Homo sapiens: one gene and its partners. The protein of the gene in region 2 purifies or fractionates together with the protein of the main gene of each other region. This does not show direct contact. Each region holds a gene or a part of one and is shown on either strand. Other genes may lie near its edges.

Region 1 (3,657 bases), on a different chromosome or scaffold from region 2:
TGTTGAAATCTGAAACAATGACACCCTAGATATAATATTCAATATCTGAATCCTATTCTTTTGTTTTACTCAGACTCTCTCTACTGAAGTTCCAACTGGTCTTCGTGACCTTCTTGGGTTTTTGTTCCCTGATCTCACTAACTATGTAAGACATAAAGTAAATGTGGTGTGCTACAGAGGTTGCTAATCAGCTAAGGCATCAGTAAGCTGACAAGTGACAACACTCGAGAGGGGCCACAGTACAGGGTTCTCTCCTTGAGGTTCTTGCCAAAGAGATTGTGCTTGTCTGCTATGTAGTGGAGAATGCTTCGGGTCTGTACCAACTTCATCCCGTCAATTTCAACCATGGGCACTTGTTGGAACAGCAGGTGGTTACCTGAGAATGGAAGCCCAGAGTTAGAAGTGATCTTTTCTTCTCTGTCCCCCAACCCCTAAAAAATGCTCTGTGGAATGAAAAGAAACGGTGGAATCATGGCCTTAGGAAATAGTGTAAAGCTTCCAGATGACAGATAACCTTAACTTCATTCAGGAGAGCAGATTTAGCCACAAAAGAAGCCTGAAGGGGCCAGGCGTGGTGGCTCAAGCCTGTAATCCCAGCACTTTGGGAGGCCAAGGCAGGCGGATCATGAGGTCAGGAGTTCAAGACCAGCCTGGCCAACATAGTGAAACCCCGCCTCTACTAGATATACAAAAATTAGCCGGGTGTGGTAGCAGATGCCTGTTGTCCCAGCTACTTGGGAGGCTGAGACAGGAGAATTGCTTGAACCCGGGAGGCGGAGGTTGCAATGAGCCAAGATCGCGCCATTGCACGCCTGGGCAACAGAGCAAGACTCTACCTCGAAAAAAAAAAGAAGGCTGAAAACTAGCATTGTTATAAACGTTCCCTTTTCATTTTCACCCCAGGAAAAATACCTATCCACAGTGATAAGGGATTGAGGGGAATGTAGTGAAGATATTTCTTCAGTGCTACACTGGCCAATACAGCAGTCACCAGCTACACGCAGCTATGTAAATCTAAATTTAAATTAATTACAATTTTTAAAACTTAAAATTCAGTCCCTAAGTTGCACTAGACATATTTCATGTGCTCAACAGTCACATTTGCCTAGTGGCTACCATATTGGACAATGCAGAATAGAACGATTCCTTCACTGTAGAATGTTCTGCTGGACAGCACTGTTTTTAGAGAATCTGATCATGAAACCTAAGTAACTAGCTGAGACTCATGTATACTCTTTGGCTCATGTATACTCTATGGCTACTCTGTAGCCACAGAACAGACCGTTTACTACCAAGTTTGCTGTCACTAGTTAAAAAAACAACCCATTGTTTTATTTAACAAACCTGAATCCAACACTTTCCACATACCAAACCCTGGGGAGAGATGCCGGTATAGGGTACAGCTTGGCCTTGAGGGTTTGAGCATTCGGAGCAGGTGAGGGGAGAGGCAAGAGGAGTACTTAGCACATGCCTAGTGGCTTCCAGCCACCGTCACACACAAAAGGTGGCCTTACAGCCCTGGAGAGCCGGTACCACACAGGGGAGCCTCCAGCTGGGCCTGAGGACCCTGCTGTTGGCTGGGAGGGAGGCTGCTCACAGGGTTGATGGGCGCATTCTTTATGGGTCTGCTGGTGGCTCCTGCTATAATGGATGGGCAAGGAGGGAGCAGGGCTGACCAGGAATTAAAGGTGAAGGGAGGGGGCAGTTCGTTGATTTCACTTCTGTGTAGTATTTACTTCAGAAAGTACCCCATGTAAATGGGGATATTTATTTGCATACTTCAAGCAGGCCAGGATGCCTCAGATAGTGTGAAGGAAGTAGGGAAAGATGAGAAGGAGGGAAGGGGCAAGGGAGAGAAAGAAAGGGGGAGGAAGAGATTGGAGGGGAGAGGGGAGAAGAAAGGGATGGAGAGGAGCTGTTCACCGGGATGTGGAAGGAACTGCTCACCCCCTTCGGCCAGCTTTTATGGAACTATTGAATAAGAAGTGATTTCCTGGCAATTTCAACTATTTATTCCCTCTTGCTTTTTTTGGTTTTAGGATACTGTTCTGAATGTTCAGTGTCATTGAATACTTTTGCCCTTCCACATAAACAGCAGCTCTTAAAGGAAAATCAGTATTAGAGGCAGTTGTTTCATTTTCATACTCACCATCCTGCAACTTGTACAACTGTTCTTTTGTTTCCAGAAATTCTTCATCAAACTAAATTTTTAAAAAAGAAACGTATATATACATAGTGGAATATTATTCAGCCATTAAGAAAACAAAATCCTGTCATTTTCAGCAACACCAACAGAAACAGAGGTCATTACGTTAAGTGAAATAAGCCAGGCACAGAAAGACAAAGACTGCATGTTCTGATTCATATGTGGGAGCTAAAAAAGTGGATCTCATGGAAATAGAAAGTTGATTGGTGCTTACTAGAGGCTGGGAAGTGTAGAGAGGAATGGGATGTGAAAAGAGGTTGGTTAATGGTACATAAATACAGCTAGACAGAAGAAATAAAATCTAGTGTTCGATAGTACAGTAGGCTATAGTTAACAATAACGTATTACACAGTTCAAAATGGCTAGAAGAGAATTGGAATGTTCCGCCATAAAGGAAAGATAAATGTTTGAGGTGGGTGATGGATATCCTAATTACCCTGATTTGATCACTACACATGATACACATGTATCAAAATATCAAATGTATTCCCCAAATATGTACATTATGCATCAATTTTTTAAAAAGATATCCTCACCCTCCAAAAGGAGGTAAATATCATACAGGCTCAGGACAAAAAATGCCAAGTTAAACAGTCTTAAGAAGCAGAGAGAAAGAGCAGACTTAGCATCCACATCTTGGTTTCTAAATATCACTGCCCCCTAAAAGGAACTAGGGGTCCTATAAGAGAAGGTTGATTTTGTTATGCCAGAAAGCAAGGAAGTGCTCAAATGTGAAAGAGAAAGGCATGGAGGGCCCTGTAAGGGGAATCCCTACCAAATCTGGGAAAATTTAAGCATCAAAAAGAATGATGTCAATTATGGATTATAACACCCAACAATAAAATCTCTATGTCCATAAATGATGATGCTAAAAAAAAAAAAAGGTAGGAGGAAGGAAAAGCTCTTTTTTACAGAAGACTTAATTAAGTTACTTAATTATGATAAAGGGAAAGTGTCGATTTATAATGGAGAGATCGGGAGATCTCTCACCCTCTGTCTAACCAAACAATCAAACTTGGCTCCCCAGTGGAGAACACTCTGACATCCTGAGGCTTCTGTTGTTAACAAAGTGAGAAGGGCACAGTCACACCTGCTAAAACAACACCAAAAATATTTACCCTGAATCTACACACAAGGTGAAAATCAGGTATATTCAGGATGTGGGACCTTACGAACATAATGGCCTGGACTTCTCAAGAGTCGAAGGCATGAAAAAAAAGTCAGGTCCTGTTGATGAAAATCAACTAGAGACTTAACAACCAAATTGGAAGTAGATTTCAGAGGAGAGGAAACTGTTATAACTGCTAAACAGACGTGTAACCATTATATAGACATTTGGGGGAAAACGGAAAATTTGAATATGGATTGCATATTAGATGTTGTGAAGGCAGTGTTAATTTTCTTGGTGGTGACAATGGTATTGTGGTTATTAGGACAATTATTTATTTTGC
Region 2 (3,024 bases):
ACACTCATTTCATTTAACTGTGGGTGTATATTACTGAAAAATAAGACAGCATTCAATATCAAGTCTACTACTGCTTTCATTTTAAGAAAATCAAAGAAAATTTATTAACATAAATGTGTTGAAATGGAGAGAGTATAATTCCAGCACTGTCATTCAATTAATTTTTGATTTAATAATAAATAAAAATAAAATTTGAGAATTATATAAAAATATTTTTTATTTTATTTTTATATAAAAAATTTATGAATTATATACCATAAATTATGTAGTAACCTATCATCAAAAAATGTTTATCATTAAAAAAAGACCTGGCCAAGCACAGTGGCTCACACCTGTAATCCCAGCACTTTGGGAGGCTGAGGCGGGTGGATCACCTGAGGTCAGGAGTTCGAGATCAGCCTGGCCAACATGGTGAAACCCCATCTCTACCAAAAATACAAAAATTAGCCAGGCATGGTGGCACAGGCCTGTAGTCCCAGCTACTCGGGAGGCTGAAGCAGGAGAATCGTTTGAACCCGGGAGGCGGGGCTTGCAGTGATCCCAGATCACTCCACGGCACTCCAGCCTGGGTGACAGAGTGAGACCCCGTCTCAAAAGAAAAAAAAAAAAAAAAAAGACCTGTCAGCTGACAACTCAATTAGATCCTTAAGTTTTACTGAAAAAAAAAAATGGCATGACTTGGAAAAGAATTTTTTCTCAACTAGCCACTAATCAGATTTTCCCTTTAGCATCTCAAAGATTTTTATATACCAAGGTAAAGCACCATAGTACCACTTAGTGTGGATAACAGGTATGCCTTTGTTGCATAAAGCAAGAGAAGGGCGATTTTGAACAGGCTGATAGGAAAGAAAAAGCCCACATCTCCAACAGAGACATATTTACAGATCTGATTACGGAAAAAATGCATATGGAAGTTAGAGATTGGAAAATTTATTCTCTTAAAAGTATTCACCCTTTCTGACCCCAGTGTGAAGATCAATGGGCTAGAATATAAAATACCACTTAGAGTGCAGTTTGGAATTAATGTGTCAAAAACCTTAATGCACAAACCTTTGACCTAGAAATTATAAGTATTTATAAAAGTGTAAATGGGGCTGGGTGAGGTGGGTCACACCTGTAATCCCAGCATTTTGGGAGGCCGAAGTGGGAGGATCGCTTGAGGCAAGGAGCTTGAGACTGGCCTTGGCAACATAATGAGACCCTGTCTCTTTAAAAAAATTTTAAAATCTAGCCAGGCATGATTGGGCACACCTGTAATCGCAGCCACTCAGAAGACTGAGGCTGGAGAATCGCTTAAATTCAGGAGTTCGAGGCTGCAGTGAACTAGAATCACGTCACTGCACTCCAGCCTGGGCAACAGAGTAAGACCCTGTCTCAAAAAAAAAAAGCATAAATGGATACATTACAAAGATATTTTATTGCAGCTTTACTTACAGTAGCCAAAAGTGAGAAACAACCTAAATGATAGTCAATAAAAGGACTGTTAAATAGAAAATGAAATACTGTCTGTAGCCATGAAAAACAGTTAAGTAGATTGTATGTACAGACACAGAAGGAAGTTCATAGTGTCCTATTAAGATAAAAATAAAACTAGTTGCAGAAAAATATCTCCATTAAAAAATAAAACTATATTTATATATGTGGGGAACATATTCATTTATGTACAAATGTATGCTGTTTTTGTGTATATATATAGAGAGAGAGAAAGATAGTCACGCGAAAATATAACAATTAAAACTGTAAACAGTGATTATCTCTGGGAAACAGGATAAGGGAAATGAGGGAGGGAAAATTTTCTTTAATTATGAAAAATTTATATTGTTTAAATTTTCATAATAAGCATACATTACTGTTAGAATTTTTTAAAGTCAATAAAATGACAAAAAGGAAATGGTGCCTAAAACTCAAGATTTTAAGAAATATTCTAGCCACTTAATATTTTTAAGTACAATTTTTAAGTATGTCAACGGTGAATAAGATAAGAATCCTGCTCTCCAAAAACCTGTAAAGTCAGTAGTTAAATCTAAAAATTTCTTATCTTTTTTTAACTCTTCTTTTGCTTACAGAAACCCAGCATATTCCAAACTAGTGATGTTTGTCCAGACAGAAATGAGAGGAAAATTGTCCCCATCAATAATTGAAAAAACCATGCCTTCCAACTTAGTAAACTTCATCCTCAATGCAAAAGATGGAATAAAGGCACACAGAACTCCATCAAGACGTGGATTTCATCATAATAGTCATTCATGATACCAAAAGAAGAAATGAGGCCGTTCTGCTATAAAATCATGTGTAGTAGTTATTGCTGTTTACTTCTAAGTCAACGCACATAAATAATACTGTTAAACTATTCTAGACAGTATTCTTGTACACATGGCTGAAGATAGTTCATAAAAATAAGAACTCATAGTTGTACAAGAATATGGCATTAAATACCGTTTTTAATCTCACGTAAGAATGATGTTAAATAAGTGTTATTAGTATATTTTTATCTTTTGCTTTTGTCCCTGTAAAATCCTCTGTATAAGGACCAATAAGAAAGCAGATACAGTCAGAGGTCAGCATTAACTAAAAGTTAAAATACATTTTAAATTGTTTTTCTTTCACTTACTGCTTAAACTGACAATTGTAGGAAACATGAACATAAAAATTGAAAAGAATTCCACTAAAATGTATGACCAATGACATTTAGAATTTTAAATGCAATGAGTCATCAAACAATTTCTGGTGTGGCCAAGATGCAATAGCCCATTCCTCCCAAGTCTTTCCTCTTAAAACTTAAAGACCCTGCACATAACACAATAAACAAGCATAGGAAAACTCAAGCATAGGTGGAAAGAATGCAGCAAGCTATCTATGGACGTCGGGACTTAAGGAATGACATTCAGTGAGTTCTCTGGGTTTCCTTATTGCCTCCCACATATCCCAGGTGGGAAAGAAACACACACACATGCACACACACACACACACACACACAACTGCATGCATGAAAAGCCTTCTCCTCCTAGTCATAGGACCAGGTGC
Region 3 (3,657 bases), on a different chromosome or scaffold from region 2:
TTTTTTCCCGTTTTTGTTCCTCTAAAGGATGGGGCTTGAGGCCAGAGGTAGAGCCAATCCAAAAGGCGTCAGGGCTCCTCCACCCAGCCCCTCAAGTGTGAGTCTGTGACCTTGGGCCTGACTCCAAGATCAAGTTCCAGTTTTCTGAGCCAAGGAACTCTAAGGTGTTTCTAAATAGAAAGATGGTCGGTAGTAAGAGTGTTGTGGATTTGTAAGAGAAGACAGTGTGAATGCAGGGAACTTCCAATGTAGGCAGAACTTAGGGTTTATCTCACTAAAGGGAAAGGTGTGACTTTTGTTTTACAAGGAAGCTGGGCCCATTTTGGGTCTGATTCCAAGGTTCTTTGGGAGTTTGATGGTGTTGATTTTCCCAGGGGCTATCCATTCCTTTCTTACTCACTCATTCACCCATCCATCCATTCATTCATTCAGTTAGCAGATCTGTTTGGAGCTCTCACTAGGTACCAGGTTCTGTATCAGGCTCTGGTAATAAAGTGGAGAACAAGACAAAGTCCCTGCACTCATGGAACTTCTGTTCTAGGAGGAAAGACAAACAGGTCAACACACACATCAATCATTACAGATAGTGGTGCATGCTGAGGGTGATGGAGGTGAGGTGAAGAGAAGCCTATTTAGATGGGGGTCAAAGAATGCCTCAGCTGAAAGCTGATGGATGAGAAGAAGCCAGGCACGGAAGAAGCCAGGGAAAAGAATGCTCCATGGAGGAATTGGCAAGTGCAGAGGCCCTGAGAGTGCTGGCTCCAGACAGAAGGCCAGAGTTCTAGAGTGGCGGGTGGGTGGGGCCGCAGAGCAAGGCCAGGCCAGATCAGGTGGGGCCTTCAAGACTTCTTGTAACAGCAGGAGGAGGCCACAGAAGGTTAGAAGCAGAGGCTGAAGAAATGACCTCTTACCAGATAGTCTGACTGCTGGGAGGTGGTGGGGGGCGGGGCGTGCATGGAGAGGGTCCTGGGAGTTGAGTGAAGAAGCTGTTGCAGGATTCAAGCTAAAGGCAATGATCTCTGGGGAGATGGGGAAGTGGGCAGAGATGAGAAGCCTTTTAGAGGTAAAAACTGGCAAGACTTGCCTATATTGTGGATAGTGTGAGATTCAGCAGGTAGCTTGTTTGAAATGCTCTGAGGTTTCTATGAGATAGGTGCAGAGGCATATATAATAAGAAATCCTGGGGCTGACACACATGCCTCTGTATTATTTTAACATGATGCAAGGTGTTCACCTTACCCTTCCCCTCAGCCACAGCTGTGTCCTGGGTGTGGGGTCTTACTTAGGTCCATAGCAGATGGAGTATGAGGCCATGGTCTGCCCTCAGCAGATGGGGCATCTGACAAGGCCACATATTCTCTTCAGCATCAATGACAAATGGACCCAGGGCTTGCTCTGGGGACTTTAGGTGACTATTTCTATCAGGAGAGGTTCGCATACATTCAGTTCAACATTGAGCAGCTACTTTGTGCTTACTACCTGATGAGGTCAGAGGCATGGGCGCAGGAAGACCCCACTTTGTGGTCGGGGGCTCACCGTCTCAAGGACATACACATTCAGCAGGTATTTCCAGGATGATGTGTGGGATGAGGGAGGATGTGAAGCTTGCTAAGAGACCTGAGAGCACAGGGACTTGGTCGCTGTCTGCTTGGCTCTGCAGGTATGTGAGACCTCAGCATTCGGTCAGGGATGAAGGGAAAGGACCAAGTCAGGTGGATGGGTGGTTGGAGTCTGAGAGGAAGGAGTGTAGTGGCATAGTGACAATTGAGGCTGAAAGTCAGCATCCACCCTCCCCCATGCACACACACGGCTGAGGAGGGGGAGGTCCGGGCCCTCCACTGAGGCTTATGATCCAAAATACTCAGACAGGAACATGGCAGCCTCCCACACAAGGCTCCTCACAGTGAGAGAATCCGGTATACAAATGCCAAGCTTATAAGCAGGAAGGTGTGTGTCATTTTAATTTCAAAATGACCTTCCCCAGCCTGGGAAACATAGCAAGACCCTATTGCTACAGAAACTTTAAAAATTAGCTGAGTGGGGTAGTGCGTGCCTGTAGTCCCAGCTACTCAGAAGGCCCAGAAATTCAAGGTTGTGGTGAACTGTGATCATGCCATTGTTCTCCAGCCTCAGTGACAGAGTGAGACCCTGTCTCTCTCAAAAAAAAAAAAAAAAAAATTACTCTACCTTACAAAGGATTTTATCCCAGAATTCCCTAATAACAATCAGTGTCAGTAACAAATAAAATGATAGATTTTACTGAAATTCTATTTGCTCATCATGGACATCCTGGTTTGTGTGTGGTAATTTATACCTGGGTAGAATTTCACACTGATGACTTCTCATATCATAACATCCAGGAAATGCCACAAAAATGTCCTGCTCTACCTGACAGGCTGTTAGTCCTCATCAAATATTTAGGAATCTTAGCAGCTTCCTCACCCTCCTTCTCATGAGTGTTGTACACATGCCAAAGTTCTTATGTAATGTCTTGATTGACAGCAGCCAAATTGCTGAACTCAAGTGGCTGGGAACCCTGGAGAGGTGTGCTCAGAGTAAACATTTCATTATAAAGGGAAGTGTGGAATCCTTCTTGCAGACTCTTGAATAAAGAAAGCCTGGGTTGGCTGGGCACGGTGGCTCACACCTGTAATCCCAACTTTGGGAGGCCAAGGTGGGTGGATCACTTGAGCCCAGGAGTTCGAGACTAGCCTGGGCAACATGGTGAAATCCCATCTCTACAAAAAATACAAAAATTACCCAAGGTTGGTGGTGCACACCCATAGTCCCAGCTACTCAGGAGGCTGATGTGGGAGGTTAGCTTGAGCCTGGGAAGTGGAGGTTGCAGTGAGCTGAGATTGTGCCACTGCACTCCAGCCTGAGCACAGAGCGAGACCCTGTCTTAAAAAAAAAGAAAAGAAAGAAAAAAAGAAAAACCTGGATTTTCTTTACTGACTACAATTCCCCAACTAATATTGATTTGTTGTTTGTTTCCAACGAGCCCTTGTTTCCTGTGAATTCTATTTTGGTTCAGCCGTTACCTGATTAAGCTGTTAAGCTGGGCCTTAAATTGTTTTACCTAGAGGCTGCTGTATACTCCTGAAATGCAGTGCTTAAGCGACAGTACGTTGTTCCCATTGCCACATTTAAGGTTGCACATGCTTTGGATGTTCTACGGATCTGAAGTCTTGTTTGCTCACCCCAAAACTGGAGAATAAAACTAGTACTTTGTCTTTTTCAGCTTATGCTAAAAGTGGGAGGTCTCAGGTGGGTTGTTGTTTTTTAAAAAATATCTATCCAATATCCTGTTTAAAAAAAACACTTCTCTAGAGTATATTTTCTGTTAAGCAAATTCAGTCTAATTTTTTTTTTAGCAGTTTATGTTTCTTGAATGGGAAAAAGCCAATATTTGGGTGACATTAGGCCTTGGTCTTAACTGCCAGTGGTCTCAGGGCTCCTTCCTTCCTTTCTTGGTGGGCAGCCTCTGTGGCTTCAGATTATTGTGTTGTTTTATGGGTAGGTTTTTTTTTTTCCTTTTCAAAGTGATTCCCAATCTTTTAAAGTTTTAATTTGAGGACTCATTTCAGATAGCAAAATACTTCATGTCCCTCTACTCTCCCTTACTCGATGGTGTACTTTTAGTGTCCACTTGGTGGT

Evidence for each region.
Region 1: the proteins of STARD6 (region 2) and GSTA4 purify together in Homo sapiens (affinity purification with mass spectrometry; one large-scale study listed by BioGRID and IntAct). This does not show direct contact.
Region 3: the proteins of STARD6 (region 2) and EEPD1 purify together in Homo sapiens (affinity purification with mass spectrometry; one large-scale study listed by BioGRID and IntAct). This does not show direct contact.

Annotation. Positions count from the first base shown.
Region 1 is NC_000006.12:52,985,208-52,988,864, forward strand, and holds part of GSTA4 (glutathione S-transferase A4), read right to left. Parts: intron 2,202-3,657; coding exon 2,150-2,201; intron 377-2,149; coding exon 244-376; intron 1-243. UniProt on the Homo sapiens protein: Conjugation of reduced glutathione to a wide number of exogenous and endogenous hydrophobic electrophiles. This isozyme has a high catalytic efficiency with 4-hydroxyalkenals such as 4-hydroxynonenal (4-HNE).
Region 2 is NC_000018.10:54,323,918-54,326,941, reverse strand, and holds the end of STARD6 (stAR-related lipid transfer protein 6), read left to right. Parts: intron 1-2,066; coding exon 2,067-2,250; 3' UTR 2,251-2,450; downstream 2,451-3,024. UniProt on the Homo sapiens protein: May be involved in the intracellular transport of sterols or other lipids. May bind cholesterol or other sterols.
Region 3 is NC_000007.14:36,159,739-36,163,395, forward strand, and holds part of EEPD1 (endonuclease/exonuclease/phosphatase family domain-containing protein 1), read left to right. Parts: intron 1-3,657.